2 separate regions of the Homo sapiens genome follow, and region 1 is linked to region 2. Evidence: fine-mapped expression QTL. A gene starts in region 2. The other region holds a variant in brackets. All regions are shown on one strand. Distances are between the middles of the regions. Region 1 has its middle 32 kb from the start of LINC02272. Region 2 holds the start of GLRB (glycine receptor beta).

The links. PIP is the estimated chance that this variant, and not a neighbour inherited with it, causes the effect.
Region 1: its variant is fine-mapped to the expression of GLRB in adrenal gland (GTEx, PIP above 0.99).

The regions. Positions count from the first base shown.
Region 1 is chr4:156,671,698-156,677,086 of GRCh38, reverse strand. No RefSeq gene overlaps it. Among named protein-coding and RNA genes, the nearest start is that of LINC02272, 32 kb to the right of the region's middle. The variant C/T (reference allele first, on the strand shown) is at 3,024.
Region 2 is chr4:157,073,392-157,078,757 of GRCh38, reverse strand. It overlaps GLRB (glycine receptor beta), which reads right to left and starts at 2,608. Exons shown (of 10, transcript NM_000824.5): 1 at 2,461-2,608; 2 at 612-762. The coding sequence starts at 733. RefSeq lists a silencer at 5,207-5,366.

The sequences.
Region 1 (5,389 bases), 400 kb after region 2:
ATAGGAATCCTTCTCATAAGTAAATACTTACACAGAATGATGAGAAACTAAATTACACTGCTAAATCATGTCTATATTTCATCGCGTAGTACTTAAATGAACAATGCAGAAGCCATCTAGTAACATATTCCACTGCTTTTTACTTTTAAGAAGCAGACCTCATTTTTCTTGCTGGAAAGTGAAAAAATATAGTTTGACAAAAACTGACCTGGAGTAGAACTAAGAGACAAAAATTAAGCATGAATACAAACAGTTCTTTCCAGGATAAAAATAGCAGAACATTGCACTGGCTTTCCCATTTGACTTTGTAATTTGTGGATGTAGAACACACTTAGTGGCCTTCATGGGCTGTACATGTAAAAAAGTTGGCTGAAGGATGCAGACAAAATGGATAATATGAGCTCATCTGTCTCCAAACACTGTTTGGTTAATGACTGTGTAGACTACAATTGTTTAATTGTACCTGGAAAAGCTAAAAAATGACTAAGCTTAAAAATGTCAAAGCGTATTCGCATTTGGATTGGCCAATAGTATATTTGCCCATATTTCTATGCAAGGTCAAAGTTAGGAGAGGATATATCTAGATATTCTATGACACCCCACAGGTCTCATAGATGTAATTCTTCATTGGGAATATTTAATATGCCTTTTTAACAAGGTGAAAACAAAAGCACACAAAAAGAGGTTATACCAAATATGAGGCTTTTTAATTATTAAAACCTTTATTTAAAAATGAATTTGCTGCAGTGTGAAAAATGCAAGTCATGATATGCTATCCATGCTTTTCCTTTCACCTCCTTCCTTGCAGTTGTCAGGTGAGAACCATGCTAGTGGTTCTGGCCAATGGACTGTTAGCAGAAATGACTTGTGTCAGGTCTGGGTTGGGATAGTTTAGAATTGGTGAGTCTCTTTTAATGCAACCAGTCTTAAAGGCACATGTTCCGAATGGCTGGATATTACTTACATTAGGGCCATCCAACACATATCAGTCTCTATGGAGTGAGAAATAAACCCTGTGTCTCTTAAGCTTTGAGATTTTGGGGTTTGTCTGGTAGCAAGCATCAAGAATCCTGATTAAAATATAATGTTACTAGTTTTTAAATAAGTATGTAAACTATATTTTTATATAATTGTTACAAATAAAAGTGTTTAATTCAATTATTGCTTATTTATTTACAAATAGATAATGTATTAATAGAGTTCATGATTTAAAAGTGGAATGGGCTATAGAGTGAAAAAGCCCTTTTCAATTTCTGAACCCCTGATCACCGATTTCCAATCCGTAGGGACAGACAATGGCAATAGTTACTTATATCTATTTCCAGAGATATTCCACATATATTGTATTCTTTTTTGCACAGATGAAAGCATACTATATACTATTCTTTATTTTTCTTTTGGTTTACAAGAAGTCTTCATATATTAGGAGTATTGGCCTTTTGTCTATGATATGTATTGCAAATGATTTTTCTCACAATTTCATCTGTCTTATGACAAATGCTTTTCTAATGAAAAATCATTTATTTTAGTTGAATTTATGTATCAAACTTGGAAGATTTCTGAGATGATATTTTAAAGTGCTTACCTGCTTTTGTCTCTATCTTTTGTTGTTTTATTTCCTCACAGTTAAAATCTTGATAAACCTGAGGAGAGTTTCTAATTATGCATCCAACTTTAATGTTTTCCTAATAGCTACATAGTTGTCTCAATTCTATTAAATACTTTGCTCACTGATTTGAAATGCAACTTTTATCACATCTACTTTTCCATAACTTCTTGAAGCTATTTCTAGATTCATTAGGTCATTATATTGATGTGTCTCCCTATTTGTGTGCCAGCATCAGTCTTCAATTCATGCTAATAACTTCTACACTCATTGCTTCAGTGAAATTTCTCTTGTCCAAAGAAGATGTTTAATACACTGTGGAAGTCCTGGCCATATGTGGCAGTTGAGGAAAATGGGATGAGAGCTATCAAACAAGTAGCAGGTGGTGTGGAAAGGGAAGGCCTCTCAGAATCACTGTATTTTTATTTGTTTTTTGAGACAGGGTCTCACTCTGTCACCCAGGGTGGAATGCAGTGGTGCAATCTTGGCTCACTGCAAGCTCTGCCTCCTGGGTCCAAGCAATTCTCCCATCTCAACCTCCCGAGTAGCTGGGATTACAGGCGCCCGCCACCATGCCCAGCTAATTTTTGTATTTTTAGTGGAGACAGGGTTTCACCACATTGGCCAGGCTGGTCTCAAACTCCTGGCCTCACGTGATCCACCCGCCTCGGCCTCCCAAAGTGCTGGGATTGCAGTCGTGAGCCACCGTGCCCGGCCAGAATCACTGTATTTTTAAATAGTAAGCCTGAATTATTATTTTTTCTTCTTTTTAATACTTTGGGCTATAGAAGTGAGGTTATATAGAGCACTGGGAAGGTAAGCTCATTGGTAGGTACCTACATCTTCCTATATCTTCCCATTGCTGGTAATTTGAATCTGCTGATATCGCCAACTCAAGTTAGGAGTGGAAAGTGTCTGGTTAACCTTTTTTTTTTTTGGCTCAGAATGACTCATTTTCCCCCCAAAAAATTAATAAGAAATATTTCAGAGAGATTATAGTAATACACATTTTTAGTTGTTCAAAGTTCTCCTTGGAAACTGACTGAATCAGGGTAAAAATATAGACTCATAGTTTATCTGGTATAGTTTACATCACTCATTCAATATTTTGGATATCTCAAGTATGAGAAAGACTTTGAGAAAAGTAGATAATTTTAAATAAGAGCCTAAACAGGCTAGAAAATATTTTTAAAATAAGACCTAACTCCTAAAAAGGAAACTCAAACAAAGAAATATTGTTTCTTTATGATTTTCTGTATGGTTTAGAAAATGTTAAGGAAATTGCACTCAAGAGCTTGACTATAAAATTTTAGGCTTTAAAAATGAAGTTATTCTGAATCAGCTGTAAGTAGAGCTAGTGATCTTATTTTCCTTGTAAACAGGCCACTTATCATCAGTCTCTTACCTTGGACTTTGT[C/T]CTTGTTTTTGGCTGTTTGCTTTAATCTGACTGAAATATGACAGAATAAATTATTAGTGTATAAATGTTCACATAATTTCTTCTTTCCTCAACCCATTGAAGAGAATAGCAATCATCCCTGTTTTGCTCCTCTTGAAGAATAAGCCTATCAGTTCCCTGTTGTATAACAAACCATCTCAAATCTCAGGAACTTACCATAATAAGAATTCATTTAGCTCATCAATCTACGGCCAGATATTTAGGCTAGGCTTGGTGGGGATATTCTCATCTTGAGTGGTTTGATGTACAGGTCTGGTGTACACTGGCTGCCAGCTAGGTCAGCAGCCATATCTGAACTGACAATCTCCCATCCTCCAGCAGGCTAGCCTGGATGTATTCTTATAGTGCTGTCATAGAGCAAGAATGAGAACAAACCCAGTCGGTCAAACTATTTCCCAACCCTCTGCTTATGTCCCACTTTCCAAAATTTCAGTGGCTAAAGCAAATAACATGGCCAAGCTTAGGGTGAGGGTAGCGGGGGCTATAAAATTTCGTGCCAAAGAACATATTCATAGAGAGGAGTGAGCAACTGGGGTTGTTCATACATCAATTGATCACATTGAAAAATAACAATGTATTGAAGGAAGAGATGTTAATTAATAAGTAATCATAATTAATAGTTGATGCAAAATGATATAAGGAGCGGGAAAGAGAAGAAATGAAAGCATCATGAACTGGGAGTAGAGTACGATTTTTTTTTCTTTTTGGGCGGGGAGGGAGCATGCACGAGAAAGAAACCTGCCAGGAAAGTGGAATGGAAACAAAGGGTACTTTAATGGGTGTTTCTAAAGACTTTTTATTTGCAGTCACTTTAATGTCATCCAAGAGGTCATAAGAAGAAATTCCTCTTTAATCACTTTTGGCTCTTGAGCTGTAATTTGTATGTGTCACAGCTCCATGACTAAACTGCATTGATCTCTAGATTCAGAAGTGGTTACTGCAGACACTGCAGCTTGCATGCCCACAGTCATACTCCTCTTTTACATTTTTAACAGATACATTATTTTGGTCCCAACTGCAGTGTCATCTGGGAAGTCGAATGCCTCTTTGAATGTGCCGATTGTTAAGTACTATAAGCTCCAGACCTATCCTCTGTTCTTTTCTTTATGATTGTTATGGCTGGAATTCTGCAAGCCATTCTTTTCCTTTGCCCGCTGACTCCCTGTTAGGTCCTGCCAATAGGGAGCATTAAAGGAAGTGAAGAAGAGACAAGCACCTTCCAGATTGCTTGCTCTAATAATTCGCTCTTCATCTCAGCATTTGGTTTGAGTAACAGCAGTTGCTACCAGTTTCCAATCTTTTCTGTATTTCAAGAACTAGCTTCATCATGCCAGCTCAGAGGTATCAGTGCCAGATGGCTCAAGTTCCCTCTACAGAAGTCTGAGTCCCAGCTCTGTAGGATGTTCCTTTGAACTGTTAAGGCACTAGCACCAGCAGCAAACTTCTGTTTTAGGCTTGAACTGGTATCTGACCGAAAGCAATTTAATTAACCTCAAGGGGCCTTAGTTAAAGAGGTTCTAAGGTTGCTATGATTTCTAGTATTGTCTCAATATATTTGTCTATGCGATGCACTCCCCCTTCACGCACAAAACTGATTGAGAAGTGAAAATTTTGAAGTGTTTAATTTAGGAATTATTTCCTTTGTTTATGTTATTCTAGACAACTGATCTGATAGACTTCTTAGATTCACTAAATTATCAGGTTGCTAAGAAGAGGAACTCTTTAATAAAAAGTAAATGTAAAAGGTAGAACAGAACACATTAATTTGGAGTGAAGAGAGCTTGCCTATGTAAGAGTATATTGGAAATTAAAGACAACACTTGTAATAGAAGAGAAATTTTGATGAACACTAAATTCACTTTTTCCTCACAACTGCAAATAAGCCTTTTCTGTTTCTGATTCAAAAAGCTTCCAAGAGTTTAATTTTAACTTTATAACTTTCTAGATTTGTATTTCCCTAGTTAACAGTAAATCCTTTCCAATTGTCTTCCTTTTTACATAATCCTCTAACAAAATGTACTTATAACTGCAAAAATTTGCAGTAATGTTTCATGGTGGTATACATCCTGAGTAAAGTGGCTACTGCTGAATTTATTATTTATATTAAACCATGAATTGTTTTCCCAGTGCTTATGGGTAGCCCCTTTCCCTAGCAATTAACATAAATTTTTGGTGAACAAAGAGCTTATGGAAATGGAAAAAGCAAAATTCATATTTGCTGGACTTTCTAGAATGGCATGGGGATGTGGAAGGAAAGGAATGTGACTTTGCCTTTCTTTTGACTTATTAATGATTCTGCATAGTCTGTGTGCCTGGAGACTTTAATA
Region 2 (5,366 bases):
TTTGTCTTTTGTGGGGGATGTGTTGGATTTAGAATTTGTGTTTTCAAGTAATTTCAAATTTAATGACCTGCTTTCTACAAAATATCCTAATCTCCTAATATAACCTATTTACAATTACTAAATTAGAAAATTGATCTATCATATGAATTTCCTTTTGCCATGCATACATATGAACTGACCTTAAGATCACAGTTACCTATCTGACTTTTAAATAAAATATTATTAAATATTTTAGGGTTTTTTTAAAAAAAAACTTTTTGAACTGGTATTTGCTCAAAACACAGTATATCAGTATCCAATTAAAGTTGCACAGCACATTTAGCATAAGAAAAAAATAGTGACTTTTTCTACTTTTGTAAACAGTGTATAAAAATTATATAAACCCATGGCATGATTTAAAAAAAGAAAACTATAAAACCACCTTGAACATTGGGAATTAATTCTTACATTCTAAACCTCTCCTCACCCTATCATTTTCTGTCTCTGTAACAGATGGATATACATTCCGATATGAAAAGTTTTGTTGATGTGTGTCTTCATAAACCACCTTACTTTTATAAAACACGCAATAACATTTCTCCATATAAGAATATAAGACATGAAGAACATACGATGGGCATAGATACTGCTTCTTTTTCCCCTTCCCTTTCTTTGAAGACTTTTCCTTAGAATAGGCTTCTTCCACCCACAAGGAAATTAAAATTAAAAAGGCAGTTGTCAATAAAAACTTCATCTTGAAAACTTGAATTTCAGAAGATCGATCTACAAGAGAGAACAAGAAAATGTTTACATTTATGAAGAAAATGATAACTATATGACTGTCCCTTTAAAGAGTATAAGCATTACTACCCAAAGGGCAAGTACATTTGTACATCAAATCCTCATTGCTCAGTCCTATGTGGTAATACTTCACAACATATTTAGTATTTTTTATATAGTAGTTGTAAAGTCTTTTTTATATAGCAGTAAAAGTCAGTTTAAATAATGGCACATAGAAAACAAGACCGCCAACGAGATATAATAGGTTACTGTATAAAATTTCTGATTCTATAGCTACACAAAATTATAAATTGATATTGAATTGCACAGTATATCAAAAATATGTTCAGAAAGATATCTGGAAGCATGGTTTAACACAGCGTTAAAATGATTATCTTCGGCTAGTACTTTGGAAGTATCTTTTTCTTTTTAAATTTTTATATTGTTTGAAGTTCTTATGTATATTTTTTCAAAAATAATGTATTTTAAAGAAAAAGAAATTCTAAGTATTAAAAAAGACAGATAAAAGAAAAAGTTAATATCAAAGAGTTCCACATTCAAAATTCATTGCTTTTTTTATTTAAACACATTACATTGGCAAGCTACCTTTTTGCCCCAAAAAGGTGCCTCTTAAGTTAGCTTTAAAGCTTTCTTACTTATTTGCTACTAACATTTGTCATCAAAAAGATTACTTCAGAAATTCTACAACAAGAAATAAAACAAGTGTTGTTACATTTTTTTCAAATTATCGTCCTAGCCATATTTTAATAACATTTTCATGCTCAAATCAGAACCATATTCTTGCCAGAGATTCTGATAAATAAAAAATAATTAAGCCTCTACCTACACTAGAGAAGTTCAAACTCTTCTGCAACCTTCATTTCCAAACCATAAATTGTTTCTCTTTCATTGTTTTCCGCAGAGTAAAAGACCTGTCATATTCTTCAACGCTAACTTAATTCCCATCTCACCCTCAGAAATTTGCTTCTCCTTATGTCATGTTTTTCATCTTCCCCCCCCCCCCCCAGGATTCTTCCCCCCATATTTATCTTTTACACACACTCCAGGCAAGCCAGAGGGGCTTCTCCCTGGGTACTTTAAATTGAAGACAACAGAGGGGGCTCATCAGACCAACAGCAACAACACAAGGTTCTCCTCTGGCAACTTCACAACATTGGACGCTCCCTTCCCCCATCCGACAGCGGCACCTGCTTCCAGACACCTTGCCCACAGCAGCAGGTACTTCTCCCACTTTCACATCCTTGCCCCCGCAAAAAGGAGGGCCGAGCCCCCCTAACGCTTCGAAAAACAGAGAAATTCACCACTCTGCTCTGTCCTCACCCCCAATCTTTCAAGGGGGACAGCTGCATTGACTGGAGGATCCTCATAAACAAAACAACGCAAGGAGCCCTCCTGGCCAACCTTGCGTTTCCTAATTACCCCGGCCCTCTGCATCTCTCCACCCGGAGCGTCTCCGCGGGCGCCACCGCAGCGGGGACCCGGCTGCCGCTGCCAGGCGCCCCGCGCCCCTCTCCCGCGCAGGGCAGCGCGCGTCCTCCCGGGCACGCCGCAGTGCTCCTCGCGCTCCGCCGCCCCGGGCTTGACCCGCTGTTTCCGCAAAGGCGTCTATTCCCGTCCTCAGACCACCGTCGCCGCCCCAACCCGCGTCCCCTCCTCCTAAGTGGAGCTCCTGGCACTTACCCGGAGGCGCCCCTGCCCACAATCGCCGGGCGAGATCGTGGAGGCTCCGGGCCCAGGTGGCAGTGGCTGCTAAGGGTGCAGCGGGCGCCGAGCGGGGGCAGCTGCGTCCCAGCCGCCCGCGCCACCGCCGAGCTCGGCTGACGCGCCTGCTCGGGCCGCGGAGCCTGCGCCGTGGCGCGCCGCGGTCGGGGCCGCAGCGGGGACAGCGCGGGCCGCGGGGGAACCTGGCGACCGCGGGCGGGGGAGGGAAGAGGTGTCCCGACAGAGCAACGTCACGGCATCGTCCCCTTCAGGCATTGGAGGGGTTACCGAGCAGAAATGTGTACCCCCCTCACTCCTTAGGGGACTAAAGGAGTTGGGGACGAAGGGCGGGAATGATAGTGTCGGTACAAAAAGAAAAAACCTTTCAAGGAGCTGGGATTGCTTGGGGTCAGCTTTTGACCACTAGCAACAAACAACAGAGCAACAAATGACCTTCTTGGGTCAAAGCGAACAAAACACATTTTCTGTCATTTCACCATTTGCCTGGAACCCAGACATCCAGCTTAATCTCCGGGTCTTCCAATTTCTAAAAGCCTGAACTTTCTGAGCAAGCTTAAATTGGTCAAAATTACTGACAATATAGTCATACAGGTAATACTATGTTTAACATCTGTTACATAATTAACATGTGTACAGAACTTGACAGTTGCAAAACACCTTTCACTCGCCTTATCTCATGTGGCCCTCACCACATTCCTGGGCAAGTTTTGTCATCCCCTTCTGTAGATGAAGAATCTGAAACTCAGTTATATTAAGAGATTTACTTAGAGTTACAGATCTTGAAAGAAATTTACCAGAGATTCAAAATTAGTGATTTTTGCATATCTGAACCAGACAGGGTCTCTGCCTTATAAGAGCAAAATACTGTTGTCCTCATCCTTGTGAAGAAGTAGCCCTTACTTGGATATGCAGCCCTTAGATAACAGATAAGGCTATCCTATTACCTCTTGAATGTATGCCTGATTGATTTTTTTTAATTGTTATTTTTTAAGCAACAGGAGCTCACTTTGTTGCCCAGGCTGGAGTGCAGAGGCACAGTCATCGCTCACCGCAGTCTTGAACTTCTGGGCAATCAAGAGATCCTCTTGTCTCGGTCTCCCTAGTAGAGTAGCTGGAACAACAGACAGGCCATTGCGCTCCACTAATTATTATTATTATTTTTTAAGAGACAGCATCTCTGGCTTTGTTGTCCAGGATGGTCTCCAACTCTGGCCTGAAGCCATCCGCCTGCCTTAGCCTCCCAAGCTGGGGGGCTTACAGGCTTGAGCCACCCCACCCCACTGCACCAGGTCCTGATGGATTTTTTTTATTAAAAAAGCATTGTCTCAAGTGAGCATCACTTAGCATTGTATTGTGGACCCACAGATGTATCCACTAATAAATTTTTCCACCCGCAGCATATGGAGGGAAGGAATATTTCCTGCATATAACCGTGTTCCATAAGCTTCATGAGATATTCTGCTGCCTAAGAGTAGTGATCATTAATAAGTGATCATTACCTTATTTACATTACAAAATGATCATTATTCAAAGAGCTGTACTGTTTGAAGACCCCCCCGCCAAAGTGGATCAGGATATAACTTTGGATTTTAATGCTTTATTAGAGAGAACTATATTGATAATATACGTTTCATAAGATATAACTTTTGGTGAATAGGTCATATGAAGAATGATAAAGGAATTAGTTTTCATGCAGCCAGGGGAGTTTAGAAGTTGGCGAAAACCTTACACTTAGTTTTCAATTAATCAAGAAATTATTAAGAGTTTAGAATAATAGGAATTCCGATTCCTGTAATAAAATGAACATCTTTTATTTACAAACTCTAATGTCCACATTTGGAAGAACTATGCTGAAAATACCTACAACAGACTTGCTCACCTTCCCTAGTATTGTTTCTGTGCCATCCATGGATGTTATATTGGAGAATTAGGTTATTCAGAAGAAAAGCAAGTCCAGCAGGTTGGATGGGTTTGTAGGGTTTTGGCCCAAAGGTTAAGAAATATAGTTGATGCCCTAAAAGCACTTCTTCTAGCCTGTAAAATGGTCAAGTTCAGAATTCTGAAAATTTTTTTCTATGAAAGTGATCTGCTTACCTATATTTCTATAACTTTTATATCATAGTGTGAAAAGGGATGCTTCTAAATAATGTCATGAAATAACCTATTTTCCCCAATTCTGTCAAGTGTTGATCTACTTTTCTCTATTTATTTCTATCAATATTCACTCCTTTAGTAATTTCATCTGGTCACAAGGTTTTAAACACCATGTTGATAGCTCCCATATGTACTTCTCCTGACTAGACATCTCTCCAGAACTCCAGACTCATCTATCTAACTGCCTTTTCAACATTTCAACTTGCGTATTTAATAAACATGTCAAACTCAGTGTGTCCCAAACTGAGCTATGGTTCTCCCTAAAATCTGCCCCACATTCAGCCTTCTCCTTCTCAGTTCACGGCAACCTCATCCTTAGGGTTGGTCAGGCTAAAAATCATGAAGTTGTTCTTGATTCCGCTCTTTTTCTCACACCTCACAACCAAATCTCTGAGGAAATCCTGTTTACTCTCAAATGACAACAGGAATTCAGCTACTTCTTATGATTTTTACTGCAGCCAACCTAGACTCAGTGACTTTCATCTCTACGTTAGATTACTATAATAGCACTTTAGCTACTCACCCTGCCTCTATCATTGTCCTCTCCTACCCTTGAGTAATCTCAAAACAGTAGCCAGAGTGATCCCTTTAAAACATGTCATAGGTCATATTGTGTCATTCCTCAACTCAACACCCAGCAGTTAGTCCCCATTTTATAAACCAGTGTTTACAATGGTCTACAAACCTTCAATTGTTATGCATCTCCTCCC